Linked DNA regions of Homo sapiens: region 2 is linked to region 1. The links come from fine-mapping of genetic effects on gene expression. A gene starts in region 1. The other region holds a variant in brackets. All regions are shown on one strand. Distances are from middle to middle.

Region 1 (5,000 bases):
TGACTCTCAAAAAGTGGCAGCTCCAACTTTAAGAACCACCAAAACATCCAATGTTCTTTCCACAATATGGCCCTTCTCTGAACTTAGAATAAATCATTCTAGGTTACTTAATAAAGGACATATTGGGATCAAAGCTTGATAATTTTAAAAAATCACCTCTTTATCTGAACTCCCCCACTTCTGGAAGCTCCAGGCCCAAAGATAACAACCTACAACTTCCTGGGATATTGTGTAAACCCCTTGATGGCCTGAAGGGAACCCAGTAAACAGGCTTCCTGATAGCGTGACCCCACACCAACGATTAATAAAGGTTTTCTAAATTTAAAATGCACAAATGATAACTTTCCAAGACTCAAAGAATAAGCAAAGCCCCATAATAGACTTAAAGACACAAGTGTTTTTAAGACACACAGATGAATGAAATCAAGATCTTCGGTCTCACCCAATTGAACTGAGTACATAATAGGTCAAAAGTTTTTGCACTGGGTGTCGGGGTATCCACTCATCTTCCTCTAGGAATGTGACAGGAACAACCTGGTCTCCCTTGGTCACCCAACCCCCACATGCTCTCAAAGGGACTTCATCCTCATTTACTACATTTGCTATAAGGGAAACGGAGTTGGCAAGAAAGGATCTCGCCTAGGAGAATATCTCCCTTGTTCCAAATTCACAAGGGTATTTTTACACACTATTAAACCACAAGAGCCATTTTATAAATGTCATCATCATAGTCTTTTAATATTTTACATAAAAAACTGTATACACAGCTTATAGAACTTTTATGTAAACATCATAAGCTCACCATTTTGTCATTTGTCAGTTTATTTAAAAAATAAAAAACAAGACAACAATTTAGTAGAAGTACCACTGGGAGGGAGGGGAGGGGAAAAAAGGATATACAGGGGCAGGTGTATTCTCTGTACAGAGGTGCAGAGAAAATTTCACATAGCTTTAGAGAATGCCTTGTGGAAAAAAAAAAAATAGGCCCCAATACTTGTTACTGCCCTTTATCAAAACTGTGTGCATGACCTGCACAAATAAAATCACAAAACAGTGTTGCCACATTCTTCAAGGAAACAAAGCAAAATTTAGTGGGTTTCTTTTCCCTCTCCTTGTTAAAAGTCATTTTTTAAAAACATCAGAAGTAGATGAGGTTACAGCGTACAAGTGTGGTCAGAATGCTACTGTCGTATGCAAATGACGAGTGCATTAAGTGTCAAACAATGAAACAATTGTGCAAAGAATAAAAAAACAAATTTTAGCCTTTAAATAAATCAAATAACATCAGTTTCTTGGACTGAACAATTTTCACTTCTAGGACAGGCACAAAGTTCGCTTATGGCAAAAACAACCCCACAGCGCATCCTCCCTCCTCCCTCCGGTAGCTGGTGGAGGGTTCGCAGCGGGCTGGCCCGCAGGAGAGGCTGTGCTGAAGCTGTGTCCTCCCCAAGTCAGTTGCAAATGTCTTCCCCAGGGGTTGGAAAGATGGTCAAGTCCTGTTCATGCTTGGGCGGGAGTCTGGCCCAGCCTGGGCCAGAGCGCTCACCCATCACCACCCTTAAATAACACCATCTTAGCTCCGAAAATAAAATTATATCTATATTTATATAACATCCCCCCATCCTCCCCAGCAGCCCTCCCCTCCCGCAGTACCCGGGGTCTATGTTACAGACAAGGGATATCAAGCTCCCGCTGGTGAAGGGCGAACATCTGATGGGGCGCGGCCACACTCCCGCGCCAATCTCGCCCCCGGGGATCAGAGGCGGGGGTGGGGTGAAAATGGGGCGAGGGGAGTCGAACAGACACACAGCCACACACTCTGAGGCCCGGCTCTTCAGAAAAGCATGCTCAGGGGACCCTTGGCACTCAGTGGGGAGCCCAGGCCTGTGCAACACAGCTGGACGCACACAGACACTGGGATGGGGGCGCCCGGTGCCCACGCCAAGTCCTGGCGCAAGCCAGAGGCGTCAGCAGACAGATGCCAGGCAGGCCGGTGGGGTCCTTGTGGGACACGGGTCTCCCCTTCTCCGGGCTCGCGGGGGACTGGTCCAGGAGGGGGAGCCGTGCCGGCAGGGGCAGGCGCGACGGGCGCGGCCCTCATAGCACCTTGCAGCAGTTGATGCAGCCGTTCTGGGAGCCGTAGCGCTTCTGCAGCGCGGCGCGCGTGGCCGTCTCGAAGACCTCGCGCACGCCTTCCTTGGTCTTGGCAGAGCACTCGAGGTAGTCGTAGGCTTGGATGCGCACGGCCATGGCGCGGCCGTCATCCGTGCGCACGGGTTCCTGCTTCATGCGGGCCAGCTCTGTGCGGACATGCTCGTCGCTGCGCAGGTCTTTTTTGTTGGCCACCAGGATGATGGGCACATTGGGACAGAAGTGCTTCACCTCGGGGACCCACTTCTCGGGGATGTTCTCCAGCGAGTCCGGGCTGTCCACCGAGAAGCACATGAGAATGACGTCGGTGTCCGGGTAGGAGAGCGGCCGCAGGCGGTCGTAGTCCTCCTGGCCCGCCGTGTCCCACAGCGCCAGCTCCACCTGCTTGCCGTCCACCTCAATGTCGGCCACATAGTTCTCGAAGACGGTGGGCACGTACACCTCGGGGAACTCGTCCTTACTGAACACGATCAGCAGGCACGTCTTGCCACACGCGCCGTCGCCCACCACCACCAGCTTCTTGCGGATGGCCGCCATGAGCGGGCCGGGCCCGGGCAGCAGGAGGGGGCCCGCGAACGCCTCGCTGCCCTCCCGCTCGCCGCTCACTGCTCACCTCGGGCTGCGCGCAGGTGGCGAGAGGGTCGCTAGCTGCACCCGGGCCCCGCGGTGGCGCGTTCTCTCGCTGCGCTTCGGCTGCCGCGGCGGGGGCGGTGGGGGCGCGGGGGCATAGGGCGCACCGTGCGTCTCGCCGCGCTGCTCCCGGGCGGTGGTCGCTCTGCTCACCCCAGGCCGGGGATCGGCGGCTTTGTGCGTAACGCGGGCTCGGGCAGCAGACTCGGGCGGTGGACTCGGCCTAGCTCTCTCCCGGGTCTCTCCGGGCCTCGCTGAGCATACAAGACAACAGCTCCAACCAGACTGCGGTGGCAGATGAGGGCTGCGGCCCTAGCGCCCGCTATTTAAAGAGTCCGGCCACTTTCTTAATATAGCCGTCCAATGGGAAACCAGCCGGCTGAGCTCATCGCTGCGGAGCTTAGCTCTGATTGGCCGCCCCCTGCAGCCCGAGGGCGGGGCAGGGCCAGCTTGATTGACGGCCCAGGCCGCCGGGCTGGGAGAGGCAGCGACCGGGGAGTCCGCGCTGCTGCTGCCGCTGCGGGGCTCTGGCGGTACCCGGGTCCCCTCCTTCGCCGCAGCGTTTGCGCGCGGGGTCCGGGAGCTGGCTGTCTGGAGCCTCCAGGGTCTGGGCGAGCGGTTCCGAGACAGGCTTCACTCAGTGGGGCGTTGGCGACTCCCATTCAGAATTGCCCCTCTTCCTGGCAAACTCCCGGCGGGTGGTCGGGCCTGTGGGGGAGGGGCAGCTCTTTTAACGTGGTTTTGTTTTTAAATAAACAGACACACACACACACACACACACACACACACCCCACACACACACTTTTGTTCCCAAACAAGAGTGTTTTCTCTTTTCTTTTGGAGGTGGCCCCTCCTGTGGTTTAGGGCCCCACCCGGGTACTCGCCGTGGGCCAGCCTCGGGTTTGGACCCGAGAGGCGACCGGCTGGCTGCAAACTGGCTCTTCCAAGTCCCGCCGCCCCTACCCTTCCCAACCCCCAGCTTAGGTCTCTAGGTGAAGATTAAGGGAAGAGGTGCGGAGTGGCCCAAGCTTGACAACGGAAAGGGAAGGTCGAGGCTCGAACACTTGGAGGAAGTTACCGGACAGGAAGAAGCCCCTTCGGCCCCTCTTTTCACTATGAACTCTGATCCCGGTTCTTAAAACAGAGAACTGTCTGAGATAAATTGTACAATAGAATATACACTATTGTACAATAGAATGTACAATAGAATATACACTATTGTACAATAGAATGTACAATAGAATATACACTATTGTACAATAGAATGTACAATAGAATATACACTTGTACAATAGAATGTACAATAGAATATACACTATTGTACAATAGAATGTACAATAGAATATACACTATTGTACAATAGAATGTACAATAGAATATACACTATTGTACAATAGAATGTACAATAGAATATACACTATTGTACAATAGAATGTACAATAGAATATACACTATTGTACAATAGAACGTACAATATTCCGGGTTCAATAGAATCCAACCACCCCAAGACCCCTGAGCAGACGAAAAGGCTTGAGGCTGGAGAAGAGGGGAGGAGTAAGGGGCTAGCAAATGGGGCACAGCGGGTTAGGGGGTGTCCCCTCTATTGGGGCGTAGCCTCCTGATGCACGCCAGGACTGAACTCATTTATCCTGTAGATCCTGCATGAAATGACAGTACCGGTGATCCGGAAAGACCCAAGTCAACCGATTTCTACGGATAAAAGAGGAAGAAGGGGATAGGGGGAAAGGGGAGTCGGGGAGGGCTCCCGGGCAGGAGAAACAGCCTGAACACAAGCAGGAAGGTGGGAAGGAGCGGGGCAAACTCTAGGAGCTGCATATGCTGGGGCTCATGAGTGCTAAAGTATTAACAGCATGGGCTGGGCTCTGTCTATCCATTGCATGGGAAATGTCTGCAAACTGTTTTTTCAGCAAAGGAGGGACCCACCACATGACCGGGAGGTGGTTGCCTCCTGTCTCCGTCTCTGTCTCGGTCTCTGTCAGTTGTTGGAGGGCCAGGATTCTGTCTTATCTCCGCATCTTGAAGACCCAGCACAATGCCTGGCATTTACAAGGATCAGTAAATGACTGTGGGGAATTAACCCGAATGCTCAGAAACGCAGGTGGAATTTTCTGGGGGTTTCTTACCTCAGTTCCACACTTCGCTTTAACAATTATCTAACCAGGCCGGGCACAGTACCTCATGCCTGTGATCCCTGGGCG
Region 2 (5,516 bases), 23 kb after region 1:
AGAACTAAGTCAAGGACTTTGAGCTCCCTTTTCTCTAATGTTCATTTTAAAAGCAGCAAACTTAACTCTTAGCAGAATCACCTGCAGGGTTTTCCCAAACTCAGATTCTGAGCCTCGCTCCCAGGGTTTCTGATCCAGTAGGTCTGATCAGGGCCCAAGAAAATGCACTTTTCTCACAAGGTCCAAGGTGATGCTGTGGTCAGCATCACCAGAGAAGCAGAACCAATAGATGCATGTGTGTGTGTGTGTGTGTATGTGTGTGTGTGTGTGTGTGTGTGTAAAAAGATTATTTATAAGAAATTGGGCTCAGTGCAGTGCTTCATGCCTGTAATCCCAGCACTTTGGGAGGCCGAGGTGGGAGGATCACTTGAGCCCAGGAGTTTAAGACCAGCCTGGACAACATGGCAAAACCCCATCTCTACAAAAAAATATACAAAAATTATCTGGGCATAGCTGGGCATAGGCCCAGCCACTCAGGAGGCTGAGGTGAGAGAATCACCTAAGCCCAGAAAGTCAAGGTTGTGGTGAGCCATGATGGCACCACTGCACTCTATCCTGGGCAACAGCGTGAGACCTTGTCTCAAAGATAAGCATATATATATTTCTTTGGAAAGCCAGGCTTTCCAGAAAAAAATTGGCTCACAATTATGGAGGCTGACAAATCCTAAATCTGTAGTCAGGAAGATGGAGACCCAGGAGAGTTACTGGTGTAGTTCCAGTCTAGAAGTCTGCAGGCTGAAGACCTAGGAGGAGCTAATGTTTCAGTTTGAGTCTGAGAACTTAAAAAAAAAATGATGTCCCAGCTCAAAAGCAGTCAAGCAGGAGGCATTCTCCCTTACTTGTGGCAGGGTCAGCCCTTTGTTCTATTCAGGCCTTCAACTGATTGGATGGCGCCCACCCACACTGGGGAGGACAATTTTTATTCAGCCTGACATTTCAAATGTTAACATCAGCCAGATGTGGTGGCTCACGCCTATGATCCTAGCACTTTGGAAGGCTGAGGAGGCAGGCTGCCTGAGGCCAGGAGTTCAAGACCAGCCTGGGTAACATGGTGAAACCCTTCTCTACTAAAAATACAAAAAATTAGCTGAGCATGGTAGTGTGTGTCTGTAGTCCCAGCTACTCAGCAGGCTGAAGCGCGAGAATCGCTTGAACCTGGGAAGTGGAGGTTGCAGTGAGCTGTCTTTAAAAAAAAAAAAAAGTTAACATCATGTTAACATCATCCAGAAACATCTTCACAGAGACACCTAGAATAACATTTGGCCAGATATCCAGGCACCCCATCGCCCAGTCAGGTTGACTCATAAAATTAATTATCACGGATGCTGCTGCTGCTGCTGCTGCTGCTGCTGTGTGACCAAACTTTGAAAATCACTGCTTGGGAGTGTCTGCCTCTCTTTGAGGTGGGGTTAAATCATTATCTCCCCATCTCACAACCTACAGGGGGAACACCTATGATCACAGGACAGGAGTCACAGCAGGATAGACACAGCCAGCCACAGTGGCCAAGCTTGACTGGCTGGCAGACTGTTGGGGGCATAGAGTCTTCGGCTGAGTGGCTGGAATCCTGTGTTGCTCATCATCAGATCCCAAAAGACACTTCATCTCCCTGGGCTCCAGCTTCATTTAGGATCCGCAGATAATACACAGGAACTACTAACACTAAAACATTATTTGCTATTTATCTGAAATTCAAATTTAACCTGCATCCTTTTTCTCTTTTTTCTTTCTTCTTCTTTTTTTTTGCTAAATTTGGCAACAGGGCAGGCCACTGCTGCTGTCATTAGAAAGACTCATTTCAGCCCAGGCAAGGGGAGGAGAGCAAACCCAGAGATGGTAACCTGCTCCCCTGAACCAGAGGAAGCAGAGACCTTCTCACAAGGACCAGGCGAGGGATGTGAGTCGGCCTGAAGGGAGGGTGGGAGATGTCCGGGCTCACTTAACCACAGAAGGGTGGACCTCTCAGACCAACACTGACACCAGCAGTAAACAGGAAATGCCCTCCAACCGCAGGCCTCCTGCTCTTCCTGCCAGGGTCGAGAAGATTCTAATCCAGATTCAGAAGAGGAGCTGACTGGCCTCTGGCAAGCCCAAGCTGGATTACCAGCTGCGGAGGCAGAGGTGCCTGAGGTTTCCCAGCCCCCAGGCCAGAGGAGGCTGCTACACC[C/A]ACTTCCCCCACGAAGCTGGGGCCCAGGCCAGAGAGAGAGCCCCAAAGCTGGTTTGGGGGCGGGGAGCTTCCCTACAGGCCCTGGAGGTACCAGGAGTGGGTGAGGTGCGGGGTGGGTGGCCTCCACAGTCCGGGTACACAGTTTGTCTGGGAGATTTCCTGGTTGCTGGTATGGGGGGGAGGTGTTCTTGTAGCTGCTGCAGGAACCTCTCCCTGTGAGCTCCATGGATGGGAAGTCGGGGTGTGGAGTGTGTAGTACTAGAATCTGCCATCTCCAGCTCTGTGCCTGTTTCCCCCAGCCCCATAGGCCCCAAGACAAAGCAAGAGGAATGAGAGGAAGCACAGCCGGGTCAAAGCTCCGAGCCACGAGTACTGAGGCAGGTGGTGGTACCCAGACCCCCTCTCCATAGCTCCCATGAGAGCACAAGGCGGAGGAGAGGACAGACTCCTGGCCTGAGGGGCCAAGCACCAGCTTCTCAGCCAGCTCTGCCACTGACTTGCTGCTTGGCAAGTCACTTAACTGTTCCAAGCCTCAGTTTTCACTTCTGGAAATGGGGATATGACCCCCTGCCTGCCCCCTCATGCTGGCATAAGAATCAATGACCTGTGACAGGACTTTGTAAATTATAAGTTGGTATTAGTTAGGCCTCTTTAGTCACAAATGTGAGAAACTGACATTAAATGAGGCAATGCAAAAGGGGGATTCACCAGCTCAGAGGCCCAAGACCCAGGGCAGGGAGAGGAGGCGCTGTCATTCCCTCTCACCCCTGCATCTCTCTGCAAGTCAGTCTCTTCTTCCGCAAGCCTGGAGCCAACTTCACCTCCTAAGAGGAGCTTCTCTGCTCTGTCACTACCAACTTGAACAACCACAGGGAGGGCCCTGAATTGTGTCACATGTCCACCCATGGCTGTGAGACACTATCTTATGCAGCTTCTTCTGGAAGCTTCTTATTTTGATTGTTGGCATCAGCATTATAAGTTTGCCACATTTTCCTGATTCCTATCCTCCTTGGACAAAATAACATAGGGGCTAAGGGCACAGGCTCTGGAACCCAGATTACCTGGATTCAAGTTCTGGTTCTGCCATTTTCTCACTGTGTAACGTTGGGCAAGTCGCTTAACTTCTCTGCACCTCAGTTCATAAATCTGTGAAAACTAAATGAGTTGATACATGGGAAGTATGAACAATTGTGCCTGGTGCCGGCCAGGGGTTCAACAAATGTTAATCATTATTATTGTCGGAGAATGAAGGGGCAGTGCCTGGGAATCCCAGGATGAGAGACAGCCTGAAGAAAAACCATCCTGCTCCACCTACTCCTCAACCTTCTTCCGGGGAGAGCTGACAACTGCAGGAGCTATGGCTCAACAAAGATGTACAGAGCTATGCAGTAAGCCCTGAGAATTACAAAACTTGACAGACAAAGTCGCTTTTTCTCCAGAAGCTCATTGCCAAGTAAGGGAGATAGAAGCATGAAGAGATCATTTCTATCCTGTGCTGGATAGAAGCGTGTGTATGTCTCTGTGGGAAGCCACAGTGGGACAACTGGTCCAGAGAGAGCTGCCTGGAAGAAATGACACCTGAGCTAAGGCCTGGAGCAGGGGCAAGAGCTTGCCAAGCAAGGAAAGGAGGGCAGGGCGTTGTGCTGTCCATTGGCTATTCAGTCTCGGCTCCAGATCTCCACTTGTCAGGTTGGCGCTACTGGGGCTTGATCTGTGCAAATTACATGTCCCCAGGTCAGCTGGTTCTGGCAGGTTCTTCCAATAGGGGGCACTAGGAGACTGAGGTCAGGAGGAGAGAAGGCACTTGCTCTTTTGTGCTTGCTTGCTTCTCCCCAGCAAGCTTTTTGCCGCAGAAGCATCCACTGAAGCCTCCAGCTTTCTTCAGCCTCAGCAGCTGGAAGCCATGTGAAGCAGCTGACAAACAGCTGGAGGCTGAGATGCCTGCTGTGGGGGGAGCAACAGTTTAAACCAGTGAGCATGTAGCATCGGAAAGCTTCCCGATGGATGATAGGTAAGGTCGGGTATGCAGATGGCCTTCCTGTGCAGGGCTGGGGACCAGAAAGAGGCAGCTAGGGGCAGGGGCCAGCCCCAGGGCAGGTTCAGAACCAAGACCCCATGTTGTGGGAGAATGGGGCCCATCAGGTGGGGCCTGGGCCCAGGGAGCTCTGGTGCAGATGCATGGAACTAAAGCACCCAAAACCTCCTCTGAGTTCCCAGCACTGATGGTGTTTTCAGAGATCATCGTGGCTCCCAGCCCGGGGAAGCCAGACTCAGGGCCAGGACTCTGAGTGGGGGGTTAGGAGAGGCGGCAGCTCTAAGGATGGAAGTTGGTGCTGACAGCAAGGGGCTGGCTCTATCCTCTGAGTATCTGGGAGCCATCATGGATCAAGGTCTCACTCCCATATTAGGAAAATTCTTTAAAAATTCCTCCGTGCAGTGCAATCTTGATTCTCCAGTGTGGGATGGGAGCATTGTGCCCCAGATATGGGAAGTCCTGGGCCACTTCCCTGGACCAGAAGTGCCGTGTCCCCACAACCCATCAGAGAGCTGGGGAAGTGCCATCCAGGCGAGCCTGAGCAGGTCCCCGGCCTTTCCCAATTCCCACATGTGCAATGGGAATGCAGCCAGTCAGAAGCAAGGGCCTCTGGCTCTGTGCCTCCACAGGGTAAGGCTGACCACAGGACTAGTCAGCCAAGGTTCGTGGACCCCTGCCAGTGCTGGCCTTGGCTCCAGGACAGGAATGTCCCTAAAGAGCTGAGGACCTTCCTTCTAGTGCTGCTCCCGGATGGAGGGCGGGGCACAAAGAACACAGCATGGATACGGAGGACCCAGGCTGTGAGCTGTCACCCTCCACTGGGCCTGGGGATGGTGGAGGGGGAGGATGGATGGAGAGATGGGAGAGGGGGATAAGTGAGGGAAGGAGGAAGGGAGGGAGACAGGGAGGTGGGGGAGAGGAGTCACACTGACGTCCAGGTTATGGACAGAAACGGACAGCTGAGGAGCCCATCAAGGCATACTAATGCCGCTGAGGCCGAGCGCATGTGCCCTCCCTTGGGCAGCTCCACTTCTCTGGGAATTCGTCATATGGCACCTGGCTTGCACTTCAGTCTCTGTGAGTCCATCCAAGGGAGTGAGTCCTACACTCCTATTCAGCTCTGGGAGCCACAGCCTGCTCAAAGAGCATCTGAAGCCACCGAGGCAAGCAGCAGACCTGGTGGCCCCGCTGTGAGCAAATTAGCTCATCTTCCTGGGACCCATAGAGCCGTCGGCCATTCCAAAATATCAGCCTCTTCGCTGGTTTCCGCCCAGCTGCCAAGGGACTACCCATGGACTTGGGGGTTGACCTTTC

Evidence for each region. PIP is the estimated chance that this variant, and not a neighbour inherited with it, causes the effect. A credible set is the group of variants that fine-mapping cannot tell apart.
Region 2: its variant is the best candidate, but not a certain one, in a credible set for the expression of RHOB in whole blood (TOPMed, PIP 0.62).

What each region holds. Positions count from the first base shown.
Region 1 is chr2:20,445,154-20,450,153 of GRCh38, reverse strand. RHOB (ras homolog family member B) reads right to left here and starts at 3,080. Exons shown (of 1, transcript NM_004040.4): 1 at 714-3,080. The coding sequence starts at 2,688. The coding sequence ends at 2,098. RefSeq lists silencers at 2,662-2,871, 3,122-3,371.
Region 2 is chr2:20,421,490-20,427,005 of GRCh38, reverse strand. LOC105373465 (a long non-coding RNA gene) reads left to right here and starts at 2,061. Exons shown (of 5, transcript XR_001739317.2): 1 at 2,061-2,254; 2 at 2,467-4,178. RefSeq lists enhancers at 1,897-1,946, 2,007-2,166, 4,300-4,813. The variant C/A (reference allele first, on the strand shown) is at 2,168.